2 separate regions of the Homo sapiens genome follow, and region 2 is linked to region 1. A link means that fine-mapping ties the variant in region 1 to the expression of a gene that starts in the linked region. Tissue or cell type: whole blood. Region 1 holds a variant in brackets; the other region holds the start of a gene. All regions are shown on one strand. Distances are from middle to middle.

What was found. PIP is the estimated chance that this variant, and not a neighbour inherited with it, causes the effect.
Region 2: LINC03053 starts here. The variant in region 1 is fine-mapped to the expression of LINC03053 in whole blood (TOPMed, PIP above 0.99).

Annotation. Positions count from the first base shown.
Region 1 is chrX:39,816,285-39,822,287 of GRCh38, forward strand. No RefSeq gene overlaps it. Among named protein-coding and RNA genes, the nearest start is that of MIR1587, 18 kb to the right of the region's middle. RefSeq lists enhancers at 397-1,312, 1,313-2,230. The variant C/T (reference allele first, on the strand shown) is at 2,649.
Region 2 is chrX:40,006,518-40,012,018 of GRCh38, forward strand. LINC03053 (long intergenic non-protein coding RNA 3053) reads left to right here and starts at 2,733. Exons shown (of 2, transcript XR_007068218.1): 1 at 2,733-3,284; 2 at 3,501-5,501. RefSeq lists enhancers at 1-653, 1,873-2,500.

The sequences.
Region 1 (6,003 bases):
CGGCCAATATGGTGCTGCCCCTACCAGTCTGCTGGCTTGAAGAGGATGTGCCAGAGACCACTCACCTGCATGGCTGGCCCAGTAGAACAAACCACAGGCTGGCTGTGGGCCTAGAGGCAGGCAGGCCAGCCGGAGCCTGGCAGAGATATACCAGAGTCAAAGGAGGGCCATCCAAGACCGTCCAGTTGACCTAAACGTGATGTGGAGAGGGATGTGTCTTAGCTACACCTATGTCCAGAATTAAGCCTCTGCACAGGTGTGGATTTTACCTCGAGGCTAATAAAGCTTAAAGTTCAGGGCCTTGACTCGCACAGTCCCCTTCCAAGGCCCTGGTAGGGTCCTAGCAGTTATCATTTGTACCTCTGCACTGTTTTTCTTCAAGAAGGCCCCAAAATTCACGTAACTTTTAGGCCCCCAAACTTGGATCTGACCCTGCAGCTGCATTAAGAAGAGATTGGGCTGCTATTCTGGTTTCTCCTTCCAGGGGGTAAGTTTATCCGCAGGGTACAGGAGGGCAGAAGGGACTGTACCTCCCCACAAGAGGGGTTTTGCCTCCGCTCTGCTTCTCTTGGAGGAGCATTTCCCAAGCTCCTCCTCCTCACCTCGTTCTGGGAGAGGGTTAATAGACGTGGGGGTAGGAGGCCTCTTGGGGCCAAATACTTCTGGAAAGATTGGCGGCCTCTCCACTGCCCCCCACCCACCAACCTCCGGAAGATTCACAATGTACATTAGCATAGTAAAGGCTCCAGATAAAGAAAACGTTTGGCTTTGTTTACTGTGGGGGTTGCCCATACTTCCTGGAGCTTAAGCTGAAAGCGAAAGGATGAGTAGGAGTCAGATAGTTGTAGGAGTCAGATAGTTTTAGGAGTCAGAGGGTTTTAGGCTTGAGGGTACAGCCCCAGCAAAAGCCTCGCAAAGCCCGGAGAACTGGAAGAAATTGCTGCTGGAAGGCAGAGTTTGAGGTGGTGGAGCCGGGAGGGATGGACTAGAGGAGCCCCCCAAGCAGGCCTTTCATCCTGAGGACACCGGGCGACAACGCGCTCAGAGCTCTGAATCAGAGCTTCCCTGAATCACAGGCAGAGCTCCCAGCTCTCTGAAGGCTTGGCATGCTGCTGTTTGCATCCTTCCATCTGTTAGCGATGTTTCAGGCTGGGCAGGCATTGTCCTCATAGAGTTTCTCCCCCATTGTCTCTGCCTCTGCTCACCCCAAAGCTGGCAGAACCACAGCGCCCAGTGGCCTCTGGCTGCAGAGGGCATGAGGACTTCAGGCTGGTTTCCCAGAAACAGGAGGGTTTGTAGATAACCCTGATACCCTATGACCAAAGGCACCGTTCCCAAAACCCCTGCCCATGGAGCTATAGCCTAGTGCTGCCAAGTAAAGTTTGGTTCTGGAAAAAACAATTAGCCTACAGGGGTAGCACTAGCTGTTTCTGAAGTTCTACAGCCCAGGCCACCACTGGGTGCTGGCCTCAGTCCCATGAACCTTCAGCCCTGCCAATGAGAAGAATTCACAGATTTATTGTCTTCTAGAAAGGTTGGGGGACACATTCCTCCATGCCACTCTCTGCTAGTTGAGGGCCTGTCCTTTTTCCCCAGGGAATAGTATCTCCCTGGCCAGAGAGCGAGCGGACCAGGCTTTGCTTTCCAGCCTCACATAACCACCCTCCCGATGCCAAATATGACACATTCTTCAAGCTAATGACCTCTGCCCCCACCTTAAAAATAACAGCCCTCCACTTCATCCATCTTTGGGCTGATGACTGCTTTTTCTCGAGCAGGCACGGACTCTAGCAGTTCCTTTGTTTTCCAGTGATGCTTTTTATCCTCCATCTGATTTCATGTCATCTGTGTCTGTGACTGAGCAGGGCTCCCCCGTCTCCTGGCTCGCCCCGCCCATGCACCTTTGGACGTGAGTCTGGAGAGCCTCTGATTCCATGTACAGATTTGCAGGGCTGGCATTTGCCTCTCACATTGGTGCTCAGAGTGGCCGTGTGAAAAGAGGGCGGTCTGGCCGTGGGACTGACTTCCCAGAGCAACAGGGCAAGCTGGTGAGTAAGAACCAGCCTTTTTGCTGGCAAGGGACCTGGGCAGAGATGGGCCCTAATATACCCAGGAGCAACTTGAAGAATAAATACAAGTCATGAGCAGCATTACTGCCAGAGTGTGACAGCTGGCCACCTAGCCCTAGATGGGTACAGGGGAGTGTGTAGAGCCTGGAACCTTCTGGAATGGGGTAAAGGAGTAGCTGAGGGCTCCTAGCTCCACCCTTGGCTCTTTACATGCTCCTGAACACACAAGGGTCCCGCCTAAAATACCGGAGGGCATGGGAGTCTACGTGTTAGTCCCTGTGGCAATTTGAGTCCTCCAGGTAGAGGACACCAAGAGAGAGTAAGTGTGAGAGATGTATTGGGGGAGATTTTTAAGAAGGATAAAGGGGGGGGGGGGACTTCAGACCGGGAGGCAGCTCTGACCCCTGCAGAAGGAGAGGGGAAGGAAGGAGGGGTGGGTAGGGAGAGCCTCAGCCGGCAGCGCAGCTCTGAGAAAGCCTCAGCCAGGCCGATGGGGAGCCCCAGAGCACAGACTGCCCATCAGAAACTTCCTGTGTCAGGCAGTAATGACCCAGCTCTAGTCCCCCTGCTATGCTCTGT[C/T]ATCGGGCGGGAACAGCCTGGGGAGGGTGGCCTCAGCAAGAATGCTGCAGCAGATCCCGAAGGTGCCACAGCCAGAGGCTAGCAAACCATGACACTTCTTCCAGAAACTTTTCCGCTGAAGGGAGGTCTGGGCAGTGCCCTTGCATGGCTGCCACTGTCCTTTTGTGTGGGGGTAAGGGGGTATCAGTGAGGGGAACTCTGAACCCTGGTCTCATGACCTCAGTCAAGCTTTTCTCTGTTGTAGCTTCTTAGTGTGTGGATGAGGGGAATGAACTATACCACATCAGTCCCCATCTCTATGGGGATGCTTGACACCCTGGATTCTGGTTATTTCAGTCTTTGAGCTCCTAGAAGGTAGACATGGAATCAAAAAAGATACCGAAGGGCCTCCACCACCAGAGACAGACACATTGCAGTTGGAAAGGGTCCAGAGTCCTTTTCCACTTGCAAGTACAGAAGGGATGTGGGCCTGGCCCAAGACCACTGAGCTATCCAGTCATTGATTCCATTATTCCACAAAGATGTGGTAGCCACCTACTCCGTGCAGATGGCTACTGTGTGCCCAAGGGGGCCATGGGTCTCCTGAGGACCAGACGGGCTTCAGCAGGAAGACCTTGCTGCCCATCTCTCCCACCCAGCCTTGGTGATTCTCAAAACCGAGGGGCAATATTCCAGATCAACCCCACTTGGTCCTGAGGAAGAGAGAAATGGTCAGGGGCGGAGGGTGGGGGAGGTCTCAGGACAAATAATATAATCCCAGTGACTCCCCCGACACTTCCCCTGCACTATCACCTCACAAATACGTGCATTCACACGTGCACACACGCACAACCACACAGCCATCTTTGGCATCATTAATAATTTATCTTTGAAGAAGCCTGTACAGTTTACAAATATTAAAGCATTATCTCACTATTTTAATCACAACGACTGCTTTGGGGTATTCTCGTTCTTTCTGATAATGAAGCTAGGCTCCGAGATCAAACTTCAACAAGGTCAAAGGGATGGCAGGTGGTTCTTAACCTTTGGGACTGTCTCAGATCCCTTTAAGAACTCTCCCCTCGGAAAAATGCATCTACCCAGAATTTTGCCCACTCTTTCAGGGGTTTGCAGTCCCTACTTCAAGCCCTTGCAGGGCTCCGCCTCCCCACCCCAGTCCCGGTGCGGCTGAGTTGGACCCGGCGGCCGCAGGATAAAATCCAGAGAGGAGTCCGTGTGACGGCGCAGCAGGATTAAGAAATCTCCCAGACCAGGATGGGCACAGAAATGGTTAAGGGGGTGGAGGGTTTTGTTTTTCACCTCTGAGGACTCTGTTATGGGTCATTAAGAACACAAGACCGAACGAGCATTCCATTTGCTGGGCCTGCCTCTAGCGCACAGCTCTGCTTCCCGACAAGATAAGTTCTGTGCAGGAAGGAAATCCTGGGCCCAGGGAGGCAGATGGGAAATCACCCCAGATAAGGCGGCTGCTCCGAGTGCTGGAGTCACACAGGGCCTTTCTGCTGCAAGAATGGCACTGCCGAGAGTCTGCGTTTCTTGCCAGCTGAGGAGGAGGAGGCTCTTCGGAGGCGTCTCCTAACACATTGCTGTTCTAGGCAGCTCTGCAAGGGGAACCCCCCAACGGGGGTGCAGCACCGTGCCTCCAAGTGAAGGAGAGGCCCTCGGGTTCCCGGAGTCTGGAGAGGTGGCCTCCAGCGGTGCCCCGGCCGCCTCCGGCTAGGCCCGCACACAGTTTACCCCCACCCAGGCCTCCTGGCACCCCCGCCCCGCATCCACCACCCAGGTGGTACCTGTGCCCGCGCAGGTGAGGAAAAAGGCCTGTGGAAAACATCATTACTGATAAATAACAGTTCCTTTCAGGTTTAATGACACGTTGCATCCATCCTAAATCTCTCAAAAAAAAAAAAAAAGAAGAAGAAAAGAAAAAAAAGAAAGAAAAAGAAAAAAGCCCTCTCGAGGGACTGCGCCTCGCGCCTGTAAATAGGAACGACAGGCCGGGGCGCGCGCCGAGGCGGGCGCACGGCTTGGAGCGGGCGTATAAATTAACCGGGGGCCGCAGAGTGAATACATTGCACGCGGTATTTATTATGCGGCCGGACCTCCGAGGGGTTCTCCGGCTCCCGGACGTGGCAAATCTTGTCCGGAGCGCCGCTGGCCGCGCTGCCAAGGGCTAGGACGAGAGGACCCGTGGCGGGGGGCGGGGGGCTTCTCCTCCAGTCCTCGGGAGCCCCGGGGCAGCCCGCTTACAGCGGCGGCAGCGGGGAGGGTTTAGGCGAGGAGAGACGCGGCCCCGGGCGCCGCTCGGGCTAGGGGCCGGGCGGGGAGGGCGGGGCGGTGGGAGCGGGCGGCGCGCCCGGCCCCTTAGCATTCCGCCGGCGCGCCCGCCATCGCCGCGTGCGCCCCCGCGCCCCGCTGTAATTACCCCGATTACCAAATGAATCTCGCGCTTTTGTGCTCGCCGGGCGGTGGGTGCGGGGAGGCAGTTCTAATAGTTGTCATTAGGGCCGGGGGAGGCGGGGCGCCGGGGGCTGAGGGTGGGAGCGCGGGGGTGGGGGAGGCCCGCCATTCCCTCGCTGGCTCGCTTGTTCGCTGGCGGTCCCAGGCGGCGCGCAGGCCGCTGCTGGCTGCTGAGTAATGATTTTTTTTCTAATTGGAGGCGAACAGCGGCCCTAATGGATGGAGCCGCTCTCGGCGCGTTCGCTGCGCCCGCCCTTCGATCAATACGGCTCGCTGAGACCGCCGGGCCGCGCTCCCCGGCCCTTTGTGGTCAGAGATGCCTCGGGGGCCCCAATCCCCGCCACCACCACCGGCCCCCCATGCTGCCTCAGCCTCGCCCGGGGAGTTCCCAGCCCCGCCACTCCGAGACACCACCCCTCCTCCGGCCTACCCCCACCCCGGACACTCCAACCCCAGGCTCCTTCCCGCACCCCCGCGCCCGAGTTCCCCTCTCGGAACACTCTTACTCCAGCTCCCCCAACACTGCCCCCGCGTGTCCCCGCCGTCCCGAGCCCTCCATCCCTTCTTGTCCTCACACTATGCCCAGTAGCCTGGTCCCCGTGGCCTCTCAGACAGGGTGGGTTAGCAGGGAGGTGTACGGGAGGGCAGACCCGGGATTGCCACCCTCACCCCTTTTCCGTGACCGCGTTTCTGCCAAGCGCCCCAGGCCGGGAGGAGAGCCGGGCACAGGCGACAGCCTCCGAGAGTTTACGCCGGCTGGTCCGGGAAGGGTTCGCTGAGTCCAATTAAATCCCCACGTTCTTTCCTTCTTGAGCCCACTCCATCTCGGACTGGCTCCAACTGGGACCCTCCGGCTTTCTGAAGGTACAGAAACTTGCGAGCACAGACACACTCCCTG
Region 2 (5,501 bases), 190 kb after region 1:
CCGAGGCTCCCCGCACCCTGCACACCCTCAAGATCGCCAAGGCGAGCCCACCGCACCCCACAGCGCGTCCCAAGGGCACCACAGCCGAGGAAGCGACTTTTGCGGTAGCGAAAGGGTGGCAGTACCCAGCTCCACGCGCTGCAAGACTCTAGCAGCCGCGCTTCACCCCAAAACTCTGCCCCTAGCCAGCACAGCTCCCCTAGCGCCCCAAATCCCAGGTGTGCCTGTTTCCCTGGAGTCCCGCCGGCGTGCTTTGCTATTCGCAGCTCGACGCCTAGACCTCCTGACTGCAACCTCCGAGGCCTTTGCGCTCCCAGGCGTCCTTTGCTGCAAGCAAACAGGCCCCCAACCGCCCCCTATGGTTTGTACTCTTCTGGAAGGTGTCTTTGGCGCTGTGAATGCAAACTCAGGCTTTGGATTAAGGGCTTCATTTTCAACTAACTGTGTGATTTGAGGCCAGTTTCTTAACCTCAGTTTCTTTATCTACAAAATGGGAGGGATATTCGTATAAGTGTGGCTACGAGGTTTAAAGAAGATATAGTTATATGTCAAATGCTTAGCACAAAGTCCTGGTGGTTAGCATTATTATTACCATATGGCCAGAACTGTGAGGACATTAAAAGTGAAGTAGGCTTTTTCCCACCAGGGGTAAGCCTCGCGGAGTCCTAGGACACATCCCACAAACCGAGGTGAACCTAAGCCACCGGCTACGTCTGAAGGGAGGACAGACGAGACGAGGGGCAGCCAACTGAGCGAATCACTCTGCCTTCCGCCTTTGCAAATGAATAGGGCTCTGTCTACAGCTTCCGCCATTCCTACGCCAGATCTGCAACGCCTAAGGCTTAAACTTGGCGCGGCGGTAAATTTAGCCCGAAGGCAGCGGCTCCTAAGGGGCGGGGATGTCTCCTTGGAAGAAGGAAAGGGAACAGGGTAAGAAAATGGAGTTGCCTCTAGGAAGAAGAATCAGGCAGAGGAAACATTCAGGGCCGCTGGCGGACCACTGACAAAAAGAAATCGGACGCAAAAGAAACCTCCCCAGAAGAAACTGGGCCACCGTGGGAGCCGTGCGAGACAGACTTCCCATCTGGGAAGGGCTGCCTACGGGTAATTGGGTTTGCTCGAGTTGCCTCTATAATTAATAAGTGATTTGACTTGGAGATTGGAAATAGTCATGAAAGGAAGCCGCGGGCGTAGGGGTGTGAGGCCCAGGAGCCTCCATCCGAAATCCAAAGACCGCGGAGGAGGACGGTTTAAGGAACAGGACGAATGTGATAATATTGGCATCTAACCTTCTAGTGTTTGAGTAATTCGTTGCTTAGCTACTTTGGATAGGCCATTATTTTGCAAACTGGAAACATTTGCAAGTGGTGATATTTTGCTCTTGCCTGACGCAGGGGCTGCAAACCTACGCCGGCTCTGCTGAACTCTTCGAAATATATATGCATAAATTGTTCCTAATGAGACCATCTGTTTTTTATGGCCCCTCTGGAAGCAGGAGGAACCCGAAGCCTGCTCCGTCTTGCAGAAATCTGTGGCCAGGCAGGCCTGGGAAATAAATAGGGGAGATTAGAACGGTGTGCGTGATTTAACAATACGCAGAACGGCAAGTTCGGTGGTCGAGATGTGTGCCTCGATTCCCAGGGGTGCGGGTCATTTAGGGTGACTCCAGACATGGGGGTTCCTCCTAGGAGGCCCAGGGACTTTGCGGAGTTCCACGGCACACACGAACCTCGTTTTTCCATATCTGGAACATCGCCAGAGCCACAACGCGAAACCACGAGCCTGTAGCTGCTCTGGGGACCCAAAACAAGCACCCAGGTTGTAGGTGGTCCCCGACGTCGCCCACTATCTAGGGCCTCCTTCTACGGTGGTGAAGGGAGCTGAACCTGGGCCACAGAGGCAGAGAACGAGCATCACTCCACCCCATACCCGGGTCAGAGCACAGAGCTCATTCCGGGCCTATCCCAAAGACTGAGCTGCTCCGCGAGCGTCTGGCAGGCCCAGCGCCCCGGCCTGAGACCGCACTGAGGGTGGCAGGGCAAACACTTTTCACATTACCGCGTGGCTGTTAATTGGGGCAGTGCAAAAGACGCCGCGACTACCCCTTTGCGGCGGCGGGGGAGGGGGGAGCGGGTCAGGAGTGGGCAGTGGGGGCTGCTTATAATAGAAGGACTGCCCTGGGGAGCCTCAGATATCGGTAACCCCCATGATTAATTCATAACTCTCCACTGCGCCTGGCACCGTCTCGGGTCTTTAATCGGTTCTGAATGTCAGCGAGGCTTCCCCGACAGCCTGAGCACTGCTTTTTCAATGTGTTGAAAGTCGCTGCGCGCACACCAGGAGACAAAGTTGCCATCTGCTCCGGGGACCAAGGCAACTGGGCGCTGGGAGGGGCCTTCCTCCCGCGGCTCCCGCTGCCCCGGGCGGCCTCCTCTTCCCGGCCTGCCCCAAAGCCAACACTGTCACCCGGAACGTCCCCGCCCCCCGCCCCGGGTGCATGCATGGTGGAAACTCCGGCTTGCAGCGAAACAGAGCGCTGCGCGCGGGCGCGCAGGGAGCCTCGCGGTCACCCAGACCGAGACCTATGCTAATGAGATTATAGGCCCGGGTTGTTTGTGTGCGCGGACGTCAAAGGGGGGGCGCAGATAAAGTGTGGAAACCGGGATGACTTGGAGGGGGGAGGGGCAGGAAGCCCCAGGAGAACAAAGCTCCTGGCCGTCGGCCTCCAAAGAGTCGCAGAAGTGACCGCCACTGGCTCGTGCACAGGCGGAAGCGGGGGAGGGCGGGGGACGCCAGGCCTAAAGCGCCTCGTGGGTTTAGAGAACTCAGAGAGGGCACCGGGTGGGGGTGGGAAGAAGACTCAACCCGTAGCTAAATGTTTGGCCTTTGGCTATTTTTTAAGGAAACGAATCTCAGGGAGGTCGGGGCGCGGGGGATGGGGGCATCATCGCGCCTCGGAGATGGGAAGCGAGTTCCCCTCCGCTTTCTGGGAAAAGCCTTGTCTCCCTTCTTTCCCCTCCCCCCATCCTGCTGAGGGTTTGCGTTGACCCATCTCTCCGCTCGGGACCGGCAGGAGGACGGAGCCGCAGGGGCTGACCGCGGCCCAGAGGCTGCCCAGGGGTCGCGCTGCTGCCGGCCTGCGCTTCCGCACTCCCGGGTTCGGTGCGTCGCCTCTCGCGGCAGCGCCTCGCTTCTTCCAGACTGTAATTCCACACTCCCGCAAGCGCTGGGGCTGCGGAATCGTTTGAGGGAGTTGGAACTGCATCAGATGAGCACGCCGGGAGGTGAGATCGGGTAGGAAATAGCCGAAACTTTGAGTTGTGCGCCACCCCACCGCCCCCAACACACACACACAGGCACACACACACACACACACACACACACACACACATTTACCCTCCCCCTTCCCAGCCGCAACCTCCGCCACCCTCTCGATTCTTCAAGGTTTGCAGCCCAGTCCTGTCATATGGTTTTGTTTCTGTGCTGCTGTTTTTTTTCAGACACGAAAATTGGACACGTGGAGAATTAGCCCTGCTGGAGAAGCGCTGGGTGCAGACTCAAACAATGGTTTCCAGCGCCGAAGCTGAGGCATCACCTTCCCCACCTCCACCCTCAAATGGCAGCTGCCTCTATATACAGCGGGCACACCCCTTCACTACCCACCCCCTCCCCCAAAGCCTGGTTAGGGACCTATGTGGGCTGCACGCTCTGGAGCCCCTTGCCCGGACACAAACCCTAGGTGGGCCTGGGCTGCCCGCTGAGTAGCTCATTGCGCCTGGGATCCCCTGGGATTTAGAAGTATAGGGCTCTCTATTTTTCCCTAGGAAGGTCCTGTCTCAAAGATGCCACCCCCAAAAATTAATGTGTAAAAACCCAACCAAGCTCCAGTCTCTGTGTCCTTTGGCAAATCTATCTTTCCTAGGGCATACTTTCCTAAGCTGCTGGGACCTTGCCCCCCATCTGATGAGCCATACGCAGGTGGTCTGGCCTCTTCAGAGCAGCTTCCTTTAGTTATTGTCTTCTCCAGAGGCCCCATCCTCCACGGCAGCCCTAATCTTAGCCCCCCAGCCTCTCTGAGCCCCCATCCCACCCCCACACTGCGCTGAGCTGGCAGCAGCCACAGCTCCCCCAGGCAGTTCCTCTCTCACTGCGCGGCCTGTGCATCTCGCTGGGGCACACACTCCGCACAGAAGCTCCCTCGCCTCCTGGAGCTGGTTTCCTCTTACAGGCTCCCCTTAGAGCTGCTGGTGCTGTGACAACGCCTGCATCTCTGTGTCTCCCTGCAGCGCTGCGAGCTGTGAATCTGCCTTCTCTTCCCTTCCTGCAAAGGTCAAGCTGCCTCCTTCTCTCGCAGGGCCGCAGTTCAGTTCTGGCCTGCAGAGCTTCTACACTGCAACTTGAATATGGGAATGGGGTGGGCATCGTGCAAGGGAGCAGTCACACTCAAGCCAGGAGGCAGGGACAAAAGGGTGTGCGATTCAGGGAGGGAAACACTGAGGACAACCCTCAGAAAGCAGTGCAGGATTTGCAGCTAAAGACTCAAAAGAGGGAGAGAAAACGAGGAAAAGGCTGTTACTAGGTCGTGAGTCCTGAAGTGTAGGCCTTTCTCCTCCCACCCCGTGGGTTGCCCTAGGGGAAGGCCAGAAGAGGCCTCAGGTGTCTGCACTGTGTCCTGTGCAGTTCCTAGGGCCATGCACTTCCGGTGAGGCTGCACTTTACTCCAAGCAGGAGTCAGAAGCATGGAATTCAGTGGCCGCAGGAGCTCAAGTCGGCTGCAGCCCTTTCAAAGAGGGACCCCGAAGAGGCCTTTCTGCCACCCCAGCCCCAGAGAGGCTATGAGGCTCTACAAGCAGCAGAGAGAATGATACGGAGAAAAATGAGAGGAAACGCTATTAAACTTGCTTCCTCTAAAGAGCGCTACCCACCGTTTTCTCTGAACTGTACCTAAAAAGTCAGGAGAGAACTCGTTAACTTTTGTTTGGTTTAACATTGCCAGCTTCAAGTCAACCGTAGGCCCCCCGAAGGTTTTGTAAAATATTTAATCTAGCTCAGACAATTTCCTGCAGTCCCTAACCAGACCACCCCACTTACTGAGCCGCTGCCAAAAAGGATGCTTGACTGCAGACTGGCAACCAGAGGCCTTCCAGTCGCCTGGCTGGCCTTGACCTCCACTCGAGGCGCCAGGAAAGACCCTTCCCGGAATCCCGAGAGACCAAGACCTGGGTAATCCTGGAGGTCTAAACCCGTGAGGAAGCCCAAGAAATGGAGTTAAAGACCCTTTTCGCACAACCGATTGTTGTCTGTGTGACCTTCTGCGGCCCTTGCCCTCTCTGAACCCTCTAAAATGGGCATGAGGATGTCTCACCTTCCTCTGGGTGTTATGCATTTTGAAGCGTGGGCACTATGGGAGAGGCTGACGCTCTGTGTTCCCCAGCGCCCTCCACTCCCACCCCTTCACTGTTTTCTTCGACATTATCTCCCTAGAGAACACAGCAAGCAGG